Linked DNA regions of Homo sapiens: regions 1 and 3 are each linked to region 2. The links come from fine-mapping of genetic effects on gene expression. A gene starts in region 2. Each other region holds a variant in brackets. All regions are shown on one strand. Distances are between the middles of the regions.

The links. PIP is the estimated chance that this variant, and not a neighbour inherited with it, causes the effect.
Region 1: its variant is fine-mapped to the expression of PKD2L1 in whole blood (TOPMed, PIP above 0.99). The same link has a PIP of 0.9 or more in blood mononuclear cells and monocytes.
Region 3: its variant is fine-mapped to the expression of PKD2L1 in macrophages (Nedelec 2016, PIP 0.95).

Annotation. Positions count from the first base shown.
Region 1 is chr10:100,289,602-100,294,601 of GRCh38, reverse strand. It overlaps PKD2L1 (polycystin 2 like 1, transient receptor potential cation channel), which reads left to right. Exons shown (of 16, transcript NM_016112.3): 9 at 1-67; 10 at 1,223-1,321; 11 at 1,533-1,654; 12 at 3,175-3,301; 13 at 4,083-4,201; 14 at 4,464-4,587. Among named protein-coding and RNA genes, the nearest start is that of BLOC1S2, 5.4 kb to the right of the region's middle. The variant A/T (reference allele first, on the strand shown) is at 3,068.
Region 2 is chr10:100,328,202-100,335,571 of GRCh38, reverse strand. It overlaps PKD2L1 (polycystin 2 like 1, transient receptor potential cation channel), which reads left to right and starts at 5,344. Exons shown (of 16, transcript NM_016112.3): 1 at 5,344-5,703; 2 at 6,248-6,361. The coding sequence starts at 5,469.
Region 3 is chr10:99,394,083-99,401,761 of GRCh38, reverse strand. GOT1 (glutamic-oxaloacetic transaminase 1) reads left to right here. Exons shown (of 9, transcript NM_002079.3): 9 at 4,076-4,892. The coding sequence ends at 4,215. It overlaps CNNM1 (cyclin and CBS domain divalent metal cation transport mediator 1), which reads right to left. Exons shown (of 11, transcript NM_020348.3): 11 at 7,432-7,679. Among named protein-coding and RNA genes, the nearest start is that of GOT1, 33 kb to the left of the region's middle. The variant C/T (reference allele first, on the strand shown) is at 4,359.

The DNA.
Region 1 (5,000 bases), 40 kb after region 2:
TGCCAACCGCATCCTGGGCCCTGCCTACTTTGTCACCTATGTCTTCTTCGTCTTCTTCGTGCTCCTGGTGAGGGTCTCTCTGAGGGGTGGGGACATAGAGAGCCTGCAGGGTGGAGTTTTGGTCCTAGTATGTCCCTCACTCAGGATTGATAAGTTTCTCAAATCAAGGATGGAGAGTGAGTGGGGGGGCCGATGTCTGGATCTTCTGAGAGATGGTTAATGTAGTACAGCCAGCATGGTCAGTTTGCAGGTTTGCAGAGTATAAGGGAACCTGCAGACTCCCTCAGTAAAATCAAACCCTCATTCTCCAAGGATGGAAATGGGGAGAAAAGTGCCTTATGAGGAGCAGTAGCTGCACCTGGAAGCGTCTACGACCGTCCTCCAAGACTCCCCTTCCTCTGGGGATCTCATGCTGATTTCTACTGCCACTACTTGGTAGTTCTCTCTCCCTGCCAACCATGAAAAATCTGGGTTATTATTTATTTATTTTAGACAGGGTCTCACTCTGTCACCCAGGCTGGAGTGCAGTGGTGCAATCTCAGCTCACTGCAACCTCCACCTCCCGAGCTCAAACTATCCTCCCACTTTAGCTTCCTGAGTAGATAGGACCACTGGTATGGTCAGGAGCCACCACACCCCGCTAATTTTTGTATCTTTTGTAGAGACAGTGTTTTGCTATGTTGCCCAGGCTGGTCTCTAACTCCTGGACTCAAGCAATCTGCCTGCCTTGGCCTCCCAAAGTGCTGGATTACAGGTGTAGGCCAGTGTGCCCAGCTCTTGGATTTTATTTTTACTAACAAGGCCAGCAATTTTCTTTATTTGATCAATGGATGGGGATACAGATATGGATTGGGGGGTAGATGAAAAAGAGATCACAATTGTACTCTCACCCTGAAAAGCCTCTAGTTCCAATGATTGATGGGCCCTTATACAAAGGAGGTCTGTGGCATATGTTATTGTATCTCTGTGGTCAGAAAGGTTACTACAGCAACTGAGAGTGAGGACACCAGGTTGGTCAAGAAGCATGATCCATCTCTAACAGAACTGTGCTGAAAGGCTGGGCTCTGGGGACCCTGAGAGGCAGGGATTGATGGGCTGCCGAACTGGGGTTGAGAGCACTGACCCCTTTGGAACACGTGTCTTGGACATTAATGGGGTCAGTGGGCTCAATCCTTTCAGTGGGTCTGGGGGTGAGGACCCAGGTCCCCACTTCATTTTCCAGAACATGTTCCTGGCCATCATCAATGACACATATTCAGAGGTCAAGGAGGAGCTGGCTGGACAGAAGGATGAGCTGCAACTTTCTGACCTCCTGAAACAGGTGATTGCTCAATCTCCTTGAGCTACACATTTCCATCAGTGCCCCAGTCTAAGGCTCTGTGTCCTGGTCTGTTCCTGACTGATTGAGGTGCCTGTGCCCTTGTGTGCCTTTAAATTTATCCTTGGAAGCCTGGCATACTATGGGTGGGGCTGGGGGCCAGGGATGAGTGAGCAGCCTGTGAGAACTTGTGCCTATTTCCTTTCCCTTTCAGGGCTACAACAAGACCCTACTAAGACTGCGTCTGAGGAAGGAGAGGGTTTCGGATGTGCAGAAGGTCCTGCAGGGTGGGGAGCAGGAGATCCAGTTTGAGGATTTCACCAACACCTTAAGGGAGTGAGCAACCAGAGACCCAGCCTTCTCTAATAACAGTCTCTTAAGTCCTCAACCCTCAACCATACTTCATTTGCTTATAAGCCTTTGGTTTTAGTTTAGGGGCCTCTGATCTTGACTTGCAGGCTTCAGATCTTTGCCCGTAGGTCTCCGCTCCTGACCTTCAGAACTGTGCCCTTGGTTTAAAAATCTCTGACCGTGGTTTATAACATCCTGGATCTTGTTGAACAACTCTTAGGAAACAATGTAATAATTCCCTAATCATTGAATACACACCCCACTCCCACAAAACTCTGATTTTTGTTCTATGCTTCCCCACAAACACTCATCTATTCCTTTAGCCATTCACTCCCTGATTCCCAGTCAAACATATTAATACACATTGAACAAATACATTGTGAGCACCAGCTGCAGATCAGGCACTGAGTAATAGACAACATAATTTTTTTTTTTTTTTTGAGACAAAGTCCTGCTCTGTTGCCCAGGCTGGAGTGCAGTTGCACAATCTCGGCTCACTGCAACCTCAGCTTCCCCGGGGTCAAGCAATTCTCATGCCTCAGCCTCCTGAGTAGCTGGGACTACAGTCATGTGCCACCACGCCCGGCTAATTTTTGTATTTTTGGTAGAGATGGGATTTTGCCATGTTGGCCAGGCTGGTCTCAAACTCCTGGCCTCAAGTGATCCACCCACCTCAGCCTCCCAAAGTGCTGGGATTAGGAGACAACGTAATTAAATGGGACAAAGTCTTTGTTTTCTAAGAGCTCATAGACTTGCAAATAAACTGAATCACAGAATAAGTTCAACAGAAGTGACTAGGAGTAGAGGGTGATCAATTCTATCTCTGAGCTTAAGGGAAGGCTTCCTGGAAGAGGTAATGTCTAAATAGGATATTGGAGGATGAATAGCTCACAAGTGGACAAGCAGAGGAAGGCTCTTCCAAGAAGAGATGAAAGCACATACAAAAGCATAGAGGTCTGAAACCAAGCAACATACACAGGAGGAATAAGTAGTTGAGCATTGCTAAGTATTAAATAAAGGGGCGGGGACAGGTGGTGGTCATAGCAGGAGATGAGACCAGAGAAACAGGCAAGGACCACACTGAGAAAGGCCACACTACCACTCTGCCAAAAGAATAGGGTGCCAGAAGGGATTTCAAGAAGGCACATTTTTAGATCTGCATATTAGAAAGGTTAATTACTCTAGTTGTATTATGGAGGATGGATTTCAGGGGTAGGGAGTAAAGGGGAAGCTGGGGGATAGCAGGTTATTTAGAGGCAAACAGATTTTGCAATAATCCCTGTAGGAGGTCATGAGGCCCTGAACCTGGTGAGCAGGAGTCAGGAGAGGAAGAAGAAACTGAACTGAACTGAGTGTTTTCCTGGGGGTAAGATTGCTAGACTTTGGAGAACCTTCTTT[A/T]CCAGAAGCAAAACTTTTGCCAGAGTCAAGCAAAAGAGTGAGGAAGTCCATAACTGAGAGGTCACAGCCACAGCTGGGCAGAAATCATTTCATCATCCTCTTCTCAGACTGGGACACGCAGAGCATGAAATCACTGAGCTCACGGCCACCTTCACCAAGTTTGACAGAGATGGGAATCGTATTCTGGATGAGAAGGAACAGGAAAAAATGCGACAGGACCTGGAGGAAGAGAGGGTGAGCTGGGCTGATGGGTGGAGAGGCAGTGTAAGGAAATAGCTCACCCTCTCCTTCCCCCAACATACCTAGAACACAAACCCACCTGAAAACTCTCCCATAGATAGTAAAGAACTCTCTAGAATAGTAGTTCCCAAACTGCTGCACATTAGAATACCCTGGGGGGCCTTTAAAAATCTTCATACTCAGGACACACACTCTAGACCAATTAAACCAGAATCTCTGGGTGTGGGGCCTAGACATCAGTACTTTTTATAACTCCTTAGGTGATTCCAATACATAGCCAAGGTTGAGAATCATGCTCTAAAACACAGGCTTAGGGAAAAATGACCAACTGCCCAAGAATCACTGATAATTCCCTCAGAGGACTTGCCTTCTCTTGGGAATTTTCAGACTTGGATTCTTGGCTGTCCCTACTGTGCCTGCTCCATCCCTATCCAGTGTGGACCAAAAAAAGTCAAAGGCAGGGTGACAGCAGCCTAGAAAGTGCCAAGAACACTGGTAGTGTCCCTCCTCTGCTAAAATGAGTTGGCCTCTAGTAAATACCTCATCCATCAAGCCTTCTAGGATCTTGTGTTTTCTTTGAGAGGTGACTCCTCCAGAGGTTGGTCCAGCACCACCACCCTGACCCTATTGTCTCCAGAGTCTGGGAGGGAAGGGGAATAGCAAGAACTAGGACCTGAGCCTTGGTCCTGAGATCCCAGTAGAGTAGGTGATAGAACAGGAGCTGATGGCTTCCCAGAGTTATCTCCTCCCCTCTAACCTCTGACTTCCTGAGCAGGTGGCCCTCAACACTGAGATTGAGAAACTAGGCCGATCTATTGTGAGCAGCCCACAAGGCAAATCGGGTCCAGAGGCTGCCAGAGCAGGAGGCTGGGTTTCAGGAGAAGAATTCTACATGTACGTGCAGCCAAGAAAGGCTGGTTCAGGGCTGGCAACACTTCTATTACGATACCCTGTCTTGTACTTTTCCCACAACTTTCCAATTCTCTGTCCTACCCCAGGGAGAACCTCCGCTCCCCTTTAATTCTGCCTACAAGGCTGGGTCTTCCCTTCCTTGTTCCATTCAGGACACATGCCCTTCTGTGAACCCTGGCTCTTTAGACATCCAGCCCCCAGACACAGATTTCTGCTCCATTCGTCTCTCTCAAATCCCACACAGGCTCACAAGGAGAGTTCTGCAGCTGGAGACTGTCCTGGAAGGAGTAGTGTCCCAGATTGATGCTGTAGGCTCAAAGCTGAAAATGCTGGAGAGGAAGGGGTGGCTGGCTCCCTCCCCAGGCGTGGTGAGTGGCCCTTCACCTGGTCCTCCTAGTTCCTCACAGCTGAACTCTGCCATCTTTTCCACTCAGTGGGTGGGGCAAGAACATTTTTGAAAGACCTATGTTTTCAGGCTCCTGGGGAAACATGTTCATAGCGGTTAGTGTATCAGCAGAGATGGGTCATGGAGATAAGGCCTGGAAGTTGCTTGCCCTGGCCTAAGGGCTGCCTTGGCCACATGAGATGGTCTGTGTCAGTCTGTTTGGGCTGATATAATAAATTATCATAGACTGGGTGGCTTATAAGCAACACAAATTTGTTCCTCACAGTTTGGGAGGCTGGGAAGTCTAAGATCAAGGTGCCAGTAGATTCAGTATCTGTTGAGGGCCCACTTCCTGATTCATAGAGAGCTGTCTTCTTGCTGTGCCCTTTCATGGTG
Region 2 (7,370 bases):
TGCTTCAAAGTACACAGTTTATAAAGACTTCTATATTCTATTATCTAAATCCTAAAACAGTCCTTAAAGTCAGCAGGGCAGGCATTGCTATCAACACTTTGGAGATTTGCAGATAGGTAAACTGAGTCTCAAAAGCGACTTGTTCAGAACCATATACTAGTAAGTTGCTGAGCCCTGCTAAACCCAGGGACTTTATTCACATTTTTTTGTTTGTTTGAGACAGAGTCTTGCTCTGTTGCCCAGGCTGGAGTGCAGTGGCGTGATCTTGGCTCACTGCAACCTCCACTTCCCAGGTACAAGTGATTCTCCTGCCTCAGCCTCCCGAGTAGCTGGAATTATAGGCACATGCCACCATGCCCGGCTAATTTTTGTATTTTTAGTAGAGACAGTGTTTCACCATGTTGGCCAGGCTGGTCTCGAACTCCTGACTTCAGGTGATCTGCCCGCCTCAGTCTCCCAAAGTGTTGGGATTACAGGCATTAGCCACCACGCCCGGCTGACACTGCTTTGTCGATGGCATCGACAAGAGGAAAAGTCAAGTGCCAGTAGGAGCTTGGGGACATGGAGAAAGGTACTGGACACAAGATAATCAGGAGATGCCACTTGATTACCACAGTTGCAATTTCTTGAGCAAGTTTAAACATCATAAGGATGCAGAGAACTTTTTGAGAACATTTCTCAAGCCGTGTTGCATAAGCTGTGCTCCTGGGGCCAATACGGGTTGATCCACACACATGGGGAATGCTTAACCCTAAGCAGGAGAAAGCAATCGGATTTTGCCCAGGTAGGTGACCAAAGGTGAATAAAGCAGTCCACTGGTGGCCTTGAACAATCAGAGATGTGAGACTTGTCACATGATGACCCTCCTTTAGCACAGTCAAACCCCTGCTGATCACAAGCCTCCTCCAGAATCCAAAATTACCCAATGGGAACCATATACCATCTCCTGTTGCTTTTCCTGCTTCTCTGGACCATACTGTTAGCTTCCTGCTCATCAACCCTATCCTAAGGTCCAGTTATGCAAGGCAGGGGTCTTTTTGCAATTATTTAAAAGGCTTGTAGGTGAGAGGTAGTGGCTCCCTTTTCCTTTGTCATCAGCTTATCTAACATAAGGTGGTTGATTCTGGTACAGTTCTTCCTCCTTTTTCTTTTTTTTTTCTGGAGAGTTTCCAAATTTATTGCTTATCAATGGACTCATCTTGGAAATTGAGCTGTAAAACACCAGGATAGAGGATAGTCTTGGTTGCCAAATCTGTTCCCCCACCAGGGCAGTGTTGTATACTTCCAAAACTTTCTAGGTCTCCTCCAAATGACTCAAGGGATGGGAATTTCACCACCTCTCATGGGAGGTTGTTTTATAGCCTCTTACATCTTACCCATGATGAAAGTTCTGATGAAACATTTTTTTCCCCTTTGGTTCATTCATTACCCTTAGATAATCCCCTAAAGAGCACCTTCACAATCCCTCTCCTTCTTTGGGGCTTATGCCTTCAACTATCTGCACATGGCTGTCAGGACCCCATCCCACACACATGCATCTGCACATGGCTGTCAGGACCCCATCCCACACACATGCACCTGCACTCCTTAGCTCTTCAGCCAGGCCTACCCACATACAGTTCTTTTCATCTTTCCTCATACATCAAAACCTCAAGTGAATTGGAAGCGGGATTATGGCTCTCTTCTCAAGATTTTCTCACGTCAGCTGCATCCCTTCTCCTCAACCACATGCCAGGTTTGTGTATGCCAATAGCCATTCACCAATGGAAATGAGGTTTTTCTGGAATGCTGTGTTCTATAGTTAAAAAAAAAAAAGATTCCTCCTACCCATAGCTTATATCTAGGTTGGATCAATATTTATACAAACTATAATAAGGAGGAAAAATCTAAAAGAAGTCTGGGACTACCTTAAATCTCCAACCCCCCAAGAAACATTTAAACTACAAATAAAAATCTCAAAATAATATATTTCCCTTAAACATAGGCTATGAATTAATAAAATAAATTCAATCACCTTTTGGTAAAGGAAGCATGAAAAGATTGACTACTCATTTCTTTATGGATGAAAAATTAGCATGGATGAGTGCCCCAAATGAAAAAGAACCCTTCCTTTTCTTCTTATTTTGTCATTTCCTTCCCACTGACTTGGTCAGAAGCCACCTCCTTTTGTTCTTCAACCACTCTGAATAGCTGGTAGTTTCCATGGTCTCTGAAGGGATTCACGCACACCACAGTTCTCGGCGGCAATAGGGACCACCAGAGGTCCTCACCCTCGTTATGCAACCTCAGGCCTTCCCCCTCCTCTGTTTTCTCCCAACTGCACTAAGGGCCAGTCTTCTACAACCCTAGGGGCATCACAGACATCTTCAGAGCCCCAAGACCCCACCTATCATTCCTATGCTTAGAAGGAACCTCTTCTTTTCCAAACCTTCCCATCCAAACCTGATGGGGCTCTTCCTTCCCAAACCTCGCCCATCCATCAAGATCTAGCTTCTGTTTCATTTCCTCCAGAGGAAGCTTCCTTTTCCCCTAAACTTCATAATGTTTAGTGTCTATACCATTAAAATAGGCTACCTCACATTATTCATGCCTCCATTTGCTGCTGCTGCTTTTTTTTTTTTTTTTTTTTGAAACAAGCTCTTTCTCTGTCACCAAGGCTGGAGTGCAATGGCATGAACACGGCTCACTGCAGCCCTGACCTCCCGGGCTCAAGCAATCCTCCTGCCTCAGCCTCCTGTGTATTTGGGATCACAGACATGCATTACCATGCCCAGCTAATTTTTTGATTTTTTTGTAGAGACAGGGTCTCACTTTGTTGCCCAGGCTGGTCTTGAACTCCTAGTCTCAAGCTCGGCCTCCCAAAGTGCTGATGTTAGCCACTGTGCCTGGCCCATTTGCTCCATTTTTTAAAGTTTTATTTTATTTTTAATTGATAAATAATAATTCTATATACTTATGAGGTACAATGTGACATTTTGATACATGTATACATTGTGGAGTGATCAAATCAGGTGAATTAGCATATTCATTACTTCAAATATTTATCATTTCTTTGTAGTAAGAACTTTTTAAATCCTCTCTGTTAGCTATTTTGAAGTACACAGTACCTCATTATCAACTGTAGTCACCACACTGTGCAACAGAACAACAGAACATATTTCTCTTGCCTGATTGAAAGCTTTTATCCATCGACCACTCTCTTCCCCTCTCACACACCCCTCACCCCCAGCCTCTGGTAACCACCATTCTACTCTCTACTTCTACGAGTTCAATTTTTTTAGTTTCCACATATAAGTGAGAGCATAGGGCATCTGTCTCATTATGCCTGGCTTATTTCACTTAACATAATGTTCTCTAGGTTTATCTATGTTGTCGTAAATGACAGAATTTTCTGTGTTTTTTTTTTCAAGGCTGAATATATTATATTGTGCATATATACCACATCTTTTAAATCCTTTCGTCAGTTGATGGATACTTAGATTGTTTCCATATCTTGGCTATTATTAATAATCCTGCAATGAACATGGGAGAGGAGACATCTATTCAACACACTGATTTCAATTCCTTTGAGATTCTTGGAACATATGGTAATTCTATTTTTAGTTTTTTGAGGAACCTCCATACTGTTTTCCAAGATGTCCGTACTAATTTACAATACAGCCAAGCATACAAGGGGCCCCTTTTCTCCACAGCCTTGCCAACACTTGTTATCTTTCTTTCTTTCTTTTTTCTTGAGACAGGGTCTTGCTCTGTTGCTCAGGCTGGAGTGCAGTGGTGTGATTTCAGCTGACTGCAGCCTCAACGCCTCAGCCTCCCCAGCTCAAGTGGTTCTCCCACCCCAGCCACCTGAGTAGCAGCTGGGACTACATGCACGCACCCCATGCCTGGCTAATTTTTGTTGTTTTGTTGTTGTTTTGTAGAGGCGGTGTTTCACCATGTTGCCCGGGCTGGTCTTGAACTCCTGAGCTCAAGTGATCCTCCTGCCCTGGCCTCCCAAAGTGCTGGAATTACAGGTGTGGGCAACCACACCCAGCCAAGATCTCTTTATAGGGACACTCAAGACTGATTATTTTGACAAGGCTGATGTTTTGCTGAATGTGAAGGTGGGCTTCAGGCCAGTGAGTAGCCCTGGGTGGGGAGCCAGGAGTTAGGAGAGGAAAGTCTCTGCTCTAGCCTCAAGGAGGAGAAACTGCAGGGTGACCACCACAACCTGTGGGATCAGCCCCATTCTGGGGCATCATGCATGCCTATAGGGGAGCTGGAGCAGGTGATCAGAAGCTGGAGCAGGGCATAGGCAGGGATGTGCTTGGGGGCCCATGACACAGTTTTAATTCAGAGACCTGCAGTTATAAAGAAAGCAGATTAATCCTGATATCATGGATAGTTCCACTTTGTGCTCAAGTTTACGATTCTAGGCCCAGGACTAAGCAGAGCCATGGGAAAAGGTTCCCAGCTCAGCTGGGTCCAGATATCCACTCCCCTTTAGTCCCACATCATACTGTCCTTGTCCTTTGTTCTCCGATCCAGCCTCCCAACCAGGTCTTAGCCTTTTTCCCATACTGAGCCCCACACCCTTAAGGAACCCCCTCTCTTGGTGTATCTCACCTGTAAGCCATGGAAAGGCAAGCTTCAGAACAAGGAATATAGACAACCTAGGACTCTGTGGTCCTCTCCCCTGCCCCCTCAGTGCCCTGAAGTATGTGAGACTGGGGTTCCTCCTGCCACTGTCCTTTCCCCACGGCTGAGAGGGTGAAGTGAGGGAAGGGAGCTGCCCATCTCTGCTCCACCAGGGGACAGCTGAAGGTGAGACAGGACAGGAGCCTCAGACCCATTGACTGAACCTGGGAGGTGGGCAGAGCCTGGGAGGGGGACAGCGCTCTTCAGCTTTCCTCCCAGCCTTGGTCCCCACCCCAATCCATGTCGGCCCTTTTAGGAGCTTTTAGTGGAAATGAGCTCAGACCCGCAGCACAGGCCCCCGGCTCCCCTCCTGTCTCAGCTCCTCCCATTGCTCTTTGATCGTCTCTTCTGTCCGACCTCTGGGCCATCTCTCCACCAGGCACATCTGCGAGCAGCCCCCTTCATCCCCAGCATCGCCTTTTCCTCCCGTTTCTCCTTCCACTCCCAGCTCCACATCCTCCTCCTATTCTCCCCTCTCCCCTCTTCAAACCCCCACCTTCCAGTTCCCTCACCTCCCCTTTCGGCTGGTCCCCTGGGGCTTGCAGCAAGAGGGAGAGAGAGCTCCTGACAGGATTGATGGTCCTTCCCCACCCTGTCCTCTCATCCGCTCCCTCCCCAGCAGGCACAGACATCCCCCTACAAAAGGCAGGAGCCCAGGCTGTGTGGAAACAGCTGCTCTCAGACGCCTTTCCATTTGCTCTCTGCTGGCTAGGCTGGGCTGTGCCTCTGCTCCCTCTTCCTCTAGCTGAGAGTGGGCACCTGGGGTACCGGGCCCCCCCACCTCATTCCCCATGAATGCTGTGGGAAGTCCTGAGGGGCAGGAGCTGCAAAAGCTGGGGAGTGGAGCCTGGGACAACCCCGCCTACAGTGGTCCCCCTTCCCCACACGGGACGCTGAGAGTCTGCACCATCTCCAGCACGGGGCCTCTCCAGCCCCAACCCAAGAAGCCTGAAGATGAACCCCAGGAGACGGCATACAGGACCCAGGTGTCCAGCTGCTGCCTCCATATCTGTCAAGGCATCAGAGGTACCAGATAGGGGGACAGTTCTCCTGGGATATTAGAATCAGGAGGAGTCACCAAAAGCTTTTGGGCAGGGGGTGGGGGTGGAATGTGATCTGAAGAAGAGGTGACCTTTCGGTGTCACTTTGGGGTGTATGAATTGCCCATGGTAGTGCTGCATGACCCAGAACACAGAGGCCAGCTGAGCGGTCTACCGGTTGTGGGAGCCTGGCATGGTCATCACCTGGGGATCCAGAGAGGTATGTGGGAGCTGGTTTGAGGGAGGACATGGATGTGATGATGCCCTAGACTACCCCACCTGGAACAGGTGCCTCCTTTCCATGCCTTCATTCTCTACAAGCCAGGGCCTTCACCCCTGTCGACCTCAGGGAGCTGATGGGAAGAGCAAGCATGGGTGTGGGTACAGTAGCCAGATTCAGCCAAGGATGAAGGTGATGGGCAAGGAAGGGCAGGGGTGGAAAGGGGCTAAAGTCCAGAGACAGATGGGTGGGGATGACTGGGAGGAACACTGCCACTGAGCATCCCAGGCATCTCTCCCATGCCCCTTAGGACTTTGGGGAACAACCCTGACTGAGAACACAGCTGAGAACCGGGAACTTTATATCAAGACCACCCTGAGGGAGCTGTTGGTATATATTGTGTTCCTGGTGGACATCTGTCTACGTGAGTAGCATCTGTGTTTGTGTACATCTGTCTGTGAGAAACATCTATGTGTGCACTATATGTATAAACATTCCTGTGGGCAACATCTGTGGAGCGAGCATCTATCTGTGTAAGCAGGCTATATCCGGGAACTTTAGATAACAATATTCCAATCCCATCTATTTACCTTTGCAGCTTAAGATATTTTGTTTAAAAGGAATTTGTCAGTAGAGGAAGGCAGTTTGGTCAAGAATTACAAGGGGAAACCAGTTTTTGGCAGCCATTGTTTTCTATTGGCTGAAAAGGTGAAAGGTGAAAATATTTTACCCTTCTGTAGAGAGTGGGCTGGCACGGTGGCTCACGCCTGTAATCCCAGCACTTTGGGAGGCCGAAGTGGGCACATCACCTGAGGTCAGGAGTTTTGAGACCAGCTTGGCCAACATGGCGAAACCCTGTCTCTACTAAAAATACAAAAATTAGCTGGGTGGCAGGTGCCTGTAATCCCAGCTACTCAGGAGGCTGAGGCAGGAGAATCGCTTAAACCCAGGAGCAGAGGTTGCAGTGAGCCAAGATCGTGCCACTACACTCCAGCCTGGGGGACAGAGCAAGACTCTGTCTCTCTGTCTCCAAAAAAAAAAAAGAGTGGAAAACCACTCCCTTCTGTTTGGAAAGATAGTTTGGTGGGCTTCACGTAGTTATTATACTATATCCGATGCATGTTTCTTTAGAGGCAGAGAAAAAGATGGAAGAAAAAAGAGAGGAAGTAAAAGATCCAGGCGACCTTAGATCTCAGATCCCTGTTAAGAGAGGGAGGGAAACACATGGTATGGTGATGGTCCCATGTGAGAGACCACCATGTCACATGCCATTGGAGGAAGCTTATTGAGGCTCTAGCTATAGACACAAACTGAGAAATTTTGATCTCTAAGTTGAGAGAAGCAAGTGAAAAGATAGGAGGGCGACTGTGGGAAGATAGAGTCAAAGAACCGTAAATAATAATAAAATTGGACCAAACAGATGCTATTAGACT
Region 3 (7,679 bases), 930 kb after region 2:
TGGTCATGCATGGTCTTGGTCAATTGTCAGTAGGGCACATCTGCCATCTGCAGTCCCATCTGATGACAGAAGAGTCATTTCTTCTTTTTTTTTTTGAGATGGAGTCTTGCTCTGTTGCCCAGGCTGGAGTGCAGTGGTGTGATCTCGACTCACTGCAACCTCCGCCTCCCGGCTTCAGGTTATTCTCCTGCCTCAGCCTCCCGAGTAGCTGAGATTACAGGCGTCATTTCTTTAGTAATTCCCACAGTGCAGATGTGGCGACTCACCTGTGTGTCCCAGTGACTCTAGGGAGGGATGTGTGGCTGGCTTGGTTTGTAGGCAGAACGGCAGAGGCCGTGGGGAGGTATTTAACTGGGGCCATCACAGTGCCAGTGTGAAGTGGGCTCAGAAAAATCCAAAGGAAATAAATATAAATGGCAGTTAATAGAGCTTGTATTGTGGACCCCTCAAAATACTTTGGGGTAAAATGAAGCTACCTAAGAAAGTAAAGAAATAGCTCAGTTAGCTGTAGATGTCCTCTTGACTGAGGAACAGAGAATTAGTTCACTCACAATTATAAAAATATTACATGTAACAGAAATATTAATAGTCTTTAGTAGTAATAGTCTAAAAGCTCACAATATGGGAATGTCTCCCTGTAAAATATCCATATCTTCCCATTATCCACAGGAGGAAATTAGTTTTATTAATATCACGAATTGGAAAAATGATGAGAATAGAACTGTGCTTATAACACAAAAGTTATATTTTTAGCGCTTGGCATCATTTGCCCTTATTAAAAACAGGGGTTTTGTTTTCCTCCCAACTTTTTTTTTCTTTTTGAGACAGAGTCTTGCTCTGTTGCTCAGGCTGGAGTGCAGTGGCACAATCTTGGCTCACTGCAACCTCCACCTCCTGGATTCAAGCGATTCTCCTGCCTCAGCCTCTCAAGTAGCTGGGACTACAGGCATGAGCCACCACACCCAGCTAATTTTTGTATTTTTAGTAGAGACAGGGTTTCACCATGTTGACCAGGCTGGTCTCAAACTCCTGACCTTAAGTGATCTACCTGCCTTGGCCTCCCACAGTGCTGGGATTACAGGCGTGAGCCACTGTGCCTGGCCTTTTTTGTTTGTTTGTTTGTTTCAGACACGGTCTCGCTCTGTCACCCAGGGTGGAGTACAGCGGTGCAATCTCGGGCCACTGCAACTTCTGCCCCCTGGGCTCAGGTGATCATTCCACCTCAGTGTCCAAGTGGCTGGGACCACAGGCGTGAACCACCATGCCCGGCTAATTTTTTGTAGAAACGGGGTCTCACCATATTGCTCAGGCTGGTCTCAAACTCCTGAGCTCAAGTGATCTGCCCGCCTCGGTCTCCCAAGGTGCTGGGATTACAGGCATGAGCCACTGCACCTGGCCAGAAAAGTTTTAAACATACAGAAAAGTTGGAGGAATTGTACAGTGAACCCCTATATATCCGCCACCTAGTTTCTACAATTCTCACATTACAATACTTCCTTTGTTATCTTTTTTCTGTCAGAATGGGGCTTTTAACCTGGAATCCCTGGATGTACGTTTAGGAGAACTGTGAAGCCCCTGAAATGATGTTTAAAAAATTGTATATGTGTATTTTGGCCCTGCTCTAGGGAAAGAGTCCATAACTTTTACTAGCTTTTCAAACTGTGACACTTCCCTTCTCTGAAAAAGTAGAAAGGCCTCATTTTTACTAAAACAAAACCAAAAGCCAGGGTAGGAGTCATTTAATCACTGCCTCAGGGCACAGGCTTTTAGAAAGAGTGGCACACCCAGGGCTGTGTTGGCTTGAGGCTCTATCCCCTTGGGTGACCAATTCACACAGGTAAACCTCTTCTTAAGCTTGCTTTCTTTGTTCACTGGTTTGGAGGGGTCAAGGGAAAACTTACCCTTTGCCCTCTGAAAGTTTGCTGGAAATCAGCTGACAAGAGGCAGATTAATAGGAGAAAAGGCATACAAATTTATTTATTTATTTTTGAGTCAGAGTCTCACTCTGTTGCCCAGGCTGGAGTGCGGCGTCACAATCATGGCTTACTGTAGCCTCAACCTCCCAGGCCCAAGCAATCCACCCACCTCAGCCTTCGTAGTACCTGGGACCACAGGTGTGTGCCACCATGCCCGGCTAATTTTTAAGATTTTTTTGTAGAGACAGGGTCTCCTTATGATGCCCAGGCTGGTCGTCAACTCCTGGGCTCAAGCAATCCTCCCTCCTCAGCCTCCCAAAGTACTTGGATTACAGGCATGAGCCACTGTGCCTGGCCAGCATGCAAATTTATTAACTTGCACAGGTGTCTTACAAAATAGAACTCAAATAAATGGCCAGATGATTGATGCTTTTATACCATCTTGGGGTTATAGAAAGAATGGGAGCTTGGAGCTTGCCAGAACAGATTATGGCAGGCAGAGAAGAGAAGGCCTGGTTAGCAAAGGTGGTCTTGTTATATTATGTAGATAAGACAGGTAGCAGCCCTCGGAGAAAATAGCGGTAAAGGTCTATTTCTTTTAGACCTTTAAAGGCATCACACTCTCAGTTAATCTCCCCTAGATCTGGACAAGGGAGGGCCTCAGAGAAAGCCTAGCTGCAGCCATGCAGATTTTCTCTACAGATACAGATCTCTCCCACAAAAGACAGCTTTGCAGGGCTACTTCTGTATGTAGGCCCTCTCAACAGCCATCTCAAAATATGTCAAAGTATATTTTGGGGTGAACTATTTTGGTTTCCTTCAAGGAGCACTGAGTCCAGGGTCCAGATTTTTCACTTCCTTAGAGAGGCACTGTAGCATCACGGGGGCAGTGTACAGCCCAGACTTGAAATCCTGCCTGAAAATCCCACATCCACCATTGACCAGCTGTGCAATCTCGGAAGGCCATTTAATGTCTTTATGGCCTATCTGTAAAATGGGCATGATAAAGTTATTATCAGGATGAACTAAGATGCAGTGCTTAGAACACTGCCTGGCACATAGTGTTTACTCCTCTGATTATGATGATTCTATTATTATTCCATTTCCTCAGGTTGGTGGTATCTTAAAGGTACTAATTACTTAAGCAATAATTCACTAAAATTCTTTTTTTTTTTGAGACAGAGTCTCACTCTGTCACCCAGGCTGGAGTGCAGTGGTGTGATCTCGGCTCACTGCAACTTCCTCCTCTTGGGTTTCAAGCAATTCTCCTGCCTCAGCCTCCTGAGTAGCTGGGACCATAGGCACATGCCACCACGCCTGGCTAATTTTTGTATTTTTAGTAGAGACTGGGTCTCAGCATGTTGGCCAGGCTGGTCTCAAACTTCTGACCTCAGGTAATCCACCAGCCTCAGCCTCCTGAAGTGCTGGGATCACAGGCGTGAACCACTGTGCCCAGCCAAATTCACTAAAATTCTATCAATGGATTTGCCAAATAGCAAAACTGCTTTAGAGACTGCTGTATAAAGGAAGTACAGGTAGTCTCTTCTTACCCACATGTGATGCATTTCTGAAAACATGGAAAAACTACTGCATCTGAGAGAAAGCTGAGAAATGAACAGAAGTCTGATGGTGCCAGGTCAGAGAGGTCTGTGTCATTTCTCAGCTCATTGGTTAATTCACACAGGATTGATCAGGTACCTCATGCATGGGGCCTTACCCAATGTATTGTAAAAATGAAATGTCAAAGGGAGGCTGCCGCGGGTACTCAATGCAAGTCCAGGTTAGGGAAGAACTAAAGGAAGCACTTCATAGCCAGCATTTCATATCGCTGTCCGTCTGATGGTTGTTTTTAGGTGATAGGGGTGTCCTGGTGGATATAATGTATAAGGCTTGGTTGGAAGGCAATCTCAGATTAAAATTCCCATCAGTAGTAGCCATATTGAATTTTCTGGGGATTCAAAGGTGAACTAGTAAGAGTACTTTCCAGAATCTAGTGAGCATATTTTTCTGTTTGTCAGTTGGACAAAATAGCGCCTTTTGTTTTGCTTCTCTCTGTTAAGGGGAAAGAAGTAAAGCTGTAATTGTCATATAATTGCTGAGCCTCCACTGCTTTAAGGATCCCCTCTGCTCTGATTATGTCTTCTTTTGGTTTTCAACAGCCAAGCAGGTTGAGTATCTGGTCAATGAAAAGCACATCTACCTGCTGCCAAGTGGTCGAATCAACGTGAGTGGCTTAACCACCAAAAATCTAGATTACGTGGCCACCTCCATCCATGAAGCAGTCACCAAAATCCAGTGAAGAAACACCACCCGTCCAGTACCACCAAAGTAGTTCTCTGTCATGTGTGTTCCCTGCCTGCACAAACCTACATGTACATACCATGGATTAGAGACACTTGCAGGACTGAAAGGCTGCTCTGGTGAGGCAGCCTCTGTTTAAAC[C/T]GGCCCCACATGAAGAGAACATCCCTTGAGACGAATTTGGAGACTGGGATTAGAGCCTTTGGAGGTCAAAGCAAATTAAGATTTTTATTTAAGAATAAAAGAGTACTTTGATCATGAGACATAGGTATCTTGTCCCTCTCACTAAAAAGGAGTGTTGTGTGTGGCGGCCACGTGCTTCTATGTGGTGTTTGACTCTGTACAAATTCTAGTCCCAAAGATCAAGTTGTCTGAAGGAGCCAAAGTGTGAATGTGGGTGTCGGCTGCGGCATTAAATTCATCATCTCAACCCAGAGTGTCTGGTCTCCCTGCTCTTTCTGCATGGTTGTGTCCCTAGTCCTAAGCTTTGGTTCTTTAGGGTGACTGTGGTAAGAAGGATATTTAATCATGACATGCACGGACACGTACATATTTAACTGAAACAAGTTTTACCAAACAGTATTTACTCGTGATGTGCGTAGTGCATTCTGATATTTTTGAGCCATTCTATTGTGTTCTACTTCACCTAAAAAAATAAAATAAAAATGTTGATCAAGACATGGAGTTGATTTTATGACCACTAATGGGTTGTGACCCACAGTTTAAAATGAATGCTTTAGAGGGTTTTACTAGTGGCTAAAGGAAAAACTACAATGTGTTCTTACAGTATAGCTTCCTTCAGTGAACTCACCATATAACTCCCTGGTGATTTTGCGGGCTTGTCATTTGGAGGCCAGCTGTCTTATGTTACTTAAGAAACTGGACTTCTTGGACTGTGAGAGGAGATGACATCACTCAGGTTGATTATAGAACATCAGCCCGTTCCCTGCTGTCAGAGTCCCTCCTGGTTTATTGAAACAGAACCACAAAAACATACATCACAATTTCCAGAGTCCAAGGGCCGCTCCAAATGGCCATTTTGTAGAATTTGGTGGGGTTTGATGTTACTTAACACAAGAGGTCTATTAATTGGAGTTTTTAAGTATTTAAAGTTAATTCTTGTGATTTTAATAGGATCTGCCACTTTCTAGGACTCATTTGGGTTGTTAGAAAATCCTGCAGTCCTGAGGGATGACTGGGGCCTCAGAAGTCATCAAGTCCTGCCTCTCCGCCAGTGAAATAGTCTCTCCATATTGTCTCTGACTCATCCATTTCAACTGGTGGGGTGGTAGTGGTGATGGATTCTTTAAATACCTGGTGAGGCATCCCCTTCTGCTGGTGGGGCCTCTTAATTAAAAAAAAAGAGGCTCATTTACCTTTTGCTCACGGTAAAAGTTCATCTACCTTGAACCAGAATTTGATCTTTGTTCCACTCCCCTGCCCCTCCTTTCCTTCCTTTAAACCACAGATAGTAAATCTACTGGCACTTCTAATCTACCACCTTTCAAATATTTGAAAGTAGCAGTTGTCATTCCTTGTTTACACTTTTCCACATGAACTGCCTCTCCCCCACCACTTTTGTTTCTGCACAGGATGTGGTTTCCAGATCCTTCCCTGTCTGGCTGGAGCCCCAGGAGTTCTTCAGAGGACACTCACTCTGCCAGTGTGTGGTTGGGCTGGTGGAAGTTCATGAGTGAATGTGATTAGATGCCCTCCCACCCATCTCTTCACAGCTTTCTGAACATATCAGTCTTTGTTCTCCTCCCAATGTAAAGATGCTTGTTGTTAGTAAGGGAAGGCAGCCAACAGAGAAGTCGAATGATTCTACCTTCTGTCAATCTGCCATTCTCTCCAAACGCTTTCAACCACTCATTCTCCATGGGGACGATACTGCCTCCATGGGGACGAAAATTGGCTCTCTGGGGCAAAAAAAAAAAAAGCCTGAAATACTAAAATGTTGCCTTCCAAAGTGCAATCCTACCTGACCATCTTATTAGTATTTAATTTCTCTTGTTAGGGAAAATTAAAATTTTCTCTTTAGGGGGCTGCCAAAACCATTAAAGATAAACACATCTTTAAATCTAAGTGACAGTACCAAAGTGCTCAAATGTTTTTAGCCTTGAAAAAAGCCCATCTCAATGGGAATCTGGCCTTCTTCTATTCCGACAGATATGTTGGTTGGTGTGGTTCCCACTGCGTTCACCTGAAAAAGGGCTGTGAGTTTGGGAAGCCGGCAGGACTCCTCAGGCCTCTGACATGCCAGTGAACTTCAGAGGTGGGATTGTTTCACCAATTTTGCTCACTCAAGAGCAGGGCACTCCAACCTCCAGGCTCTGCCAGTTCCCAGGTGTGTAACCGTGAGCAAGAAGACAGTAACCTTGCAGACAGTAACCCCTCCTCCACAGGGTGGTTGAGAAAGAAATGAGCTAATGGGTACTTAACAGAATACTTGGAACATAAAGCCCTTGGCAAAATAGTTGTTTCCATTATTTATTATTACCGTTAGTGAAATGAATAGCCTCTACTGAGGTTCCTGAGAAGAATCTTAAGAGGTTTTGGCATAGGCCCCTGATCCTCCTGTTTGCTTTGAGAAATGAGTAGTAGGTGTCAGATTTCAGCCTTCCTTCCACACAGGTATTATATGCCCAAACACATCTTCCCACCTGCCTGGCTGTTCCCTCCCTCCAGCATCGGCTTAAAACTGACCAACAGGCCTGGCCCATTCTTGTGTTCCGTTCCCTAGCCTTTGGTTGCAAACTGCCAGAGTCATGCCACTTGGACTCCTTTCTGAAGGTTCTGCAGAAGCGAGCTAGTGTGACCAACATTCTGTCTCAGGGGCTTGTCTGGGTTTAGCCCCCAAGACCCTGAATTTGGACGGCACCCAGCACAGCACCTCACCCATCACATGGGTTCAGCAAATGCCAGCCCTTCTCACTGTCGTCTTAGTTCCTTCCTCGTCTTTATGCATACTGGCTTCTCATTTGGGTTTTACTTCTCATTTCTGGCATTCACTCCTGCAAAATCTTACCATCTGGCCTCCCAAAGTAGTGTGCCAAGGCTTCCCCGTGACCTCACCGCAGCCTCACACCTGGCCCGGAGCGGCATGCCTCTTCAGGCAGGTGGTGCACAGGTGAGATCATCACACGTGGGCATCACTCAACCTGCATCTCAAATGAAGCCACGTCAGAAGATTCCAGGGGCAAGGAAAACAGCCACATTCCAGGAAAGGCATTTTCATTTTATTTAAAAATTATTTACAATTTATTAAGCCTTCATAAATGCTTTATTTTAAAATCTTTTTTTTAAACTTTTTTTTTAACCTGAAGAAAATCTTTGTGGGGTGGGGGTATATAGGGAGGGGAGTGGTGACAGGCTCCATAGGGATTTTGCAAAGGGATGGGTGTAATGCAACAGCAGTGGCTTGAGCCTGGTGGCCTCAGGTGATGAAGACCAGCCAGGCAGGCA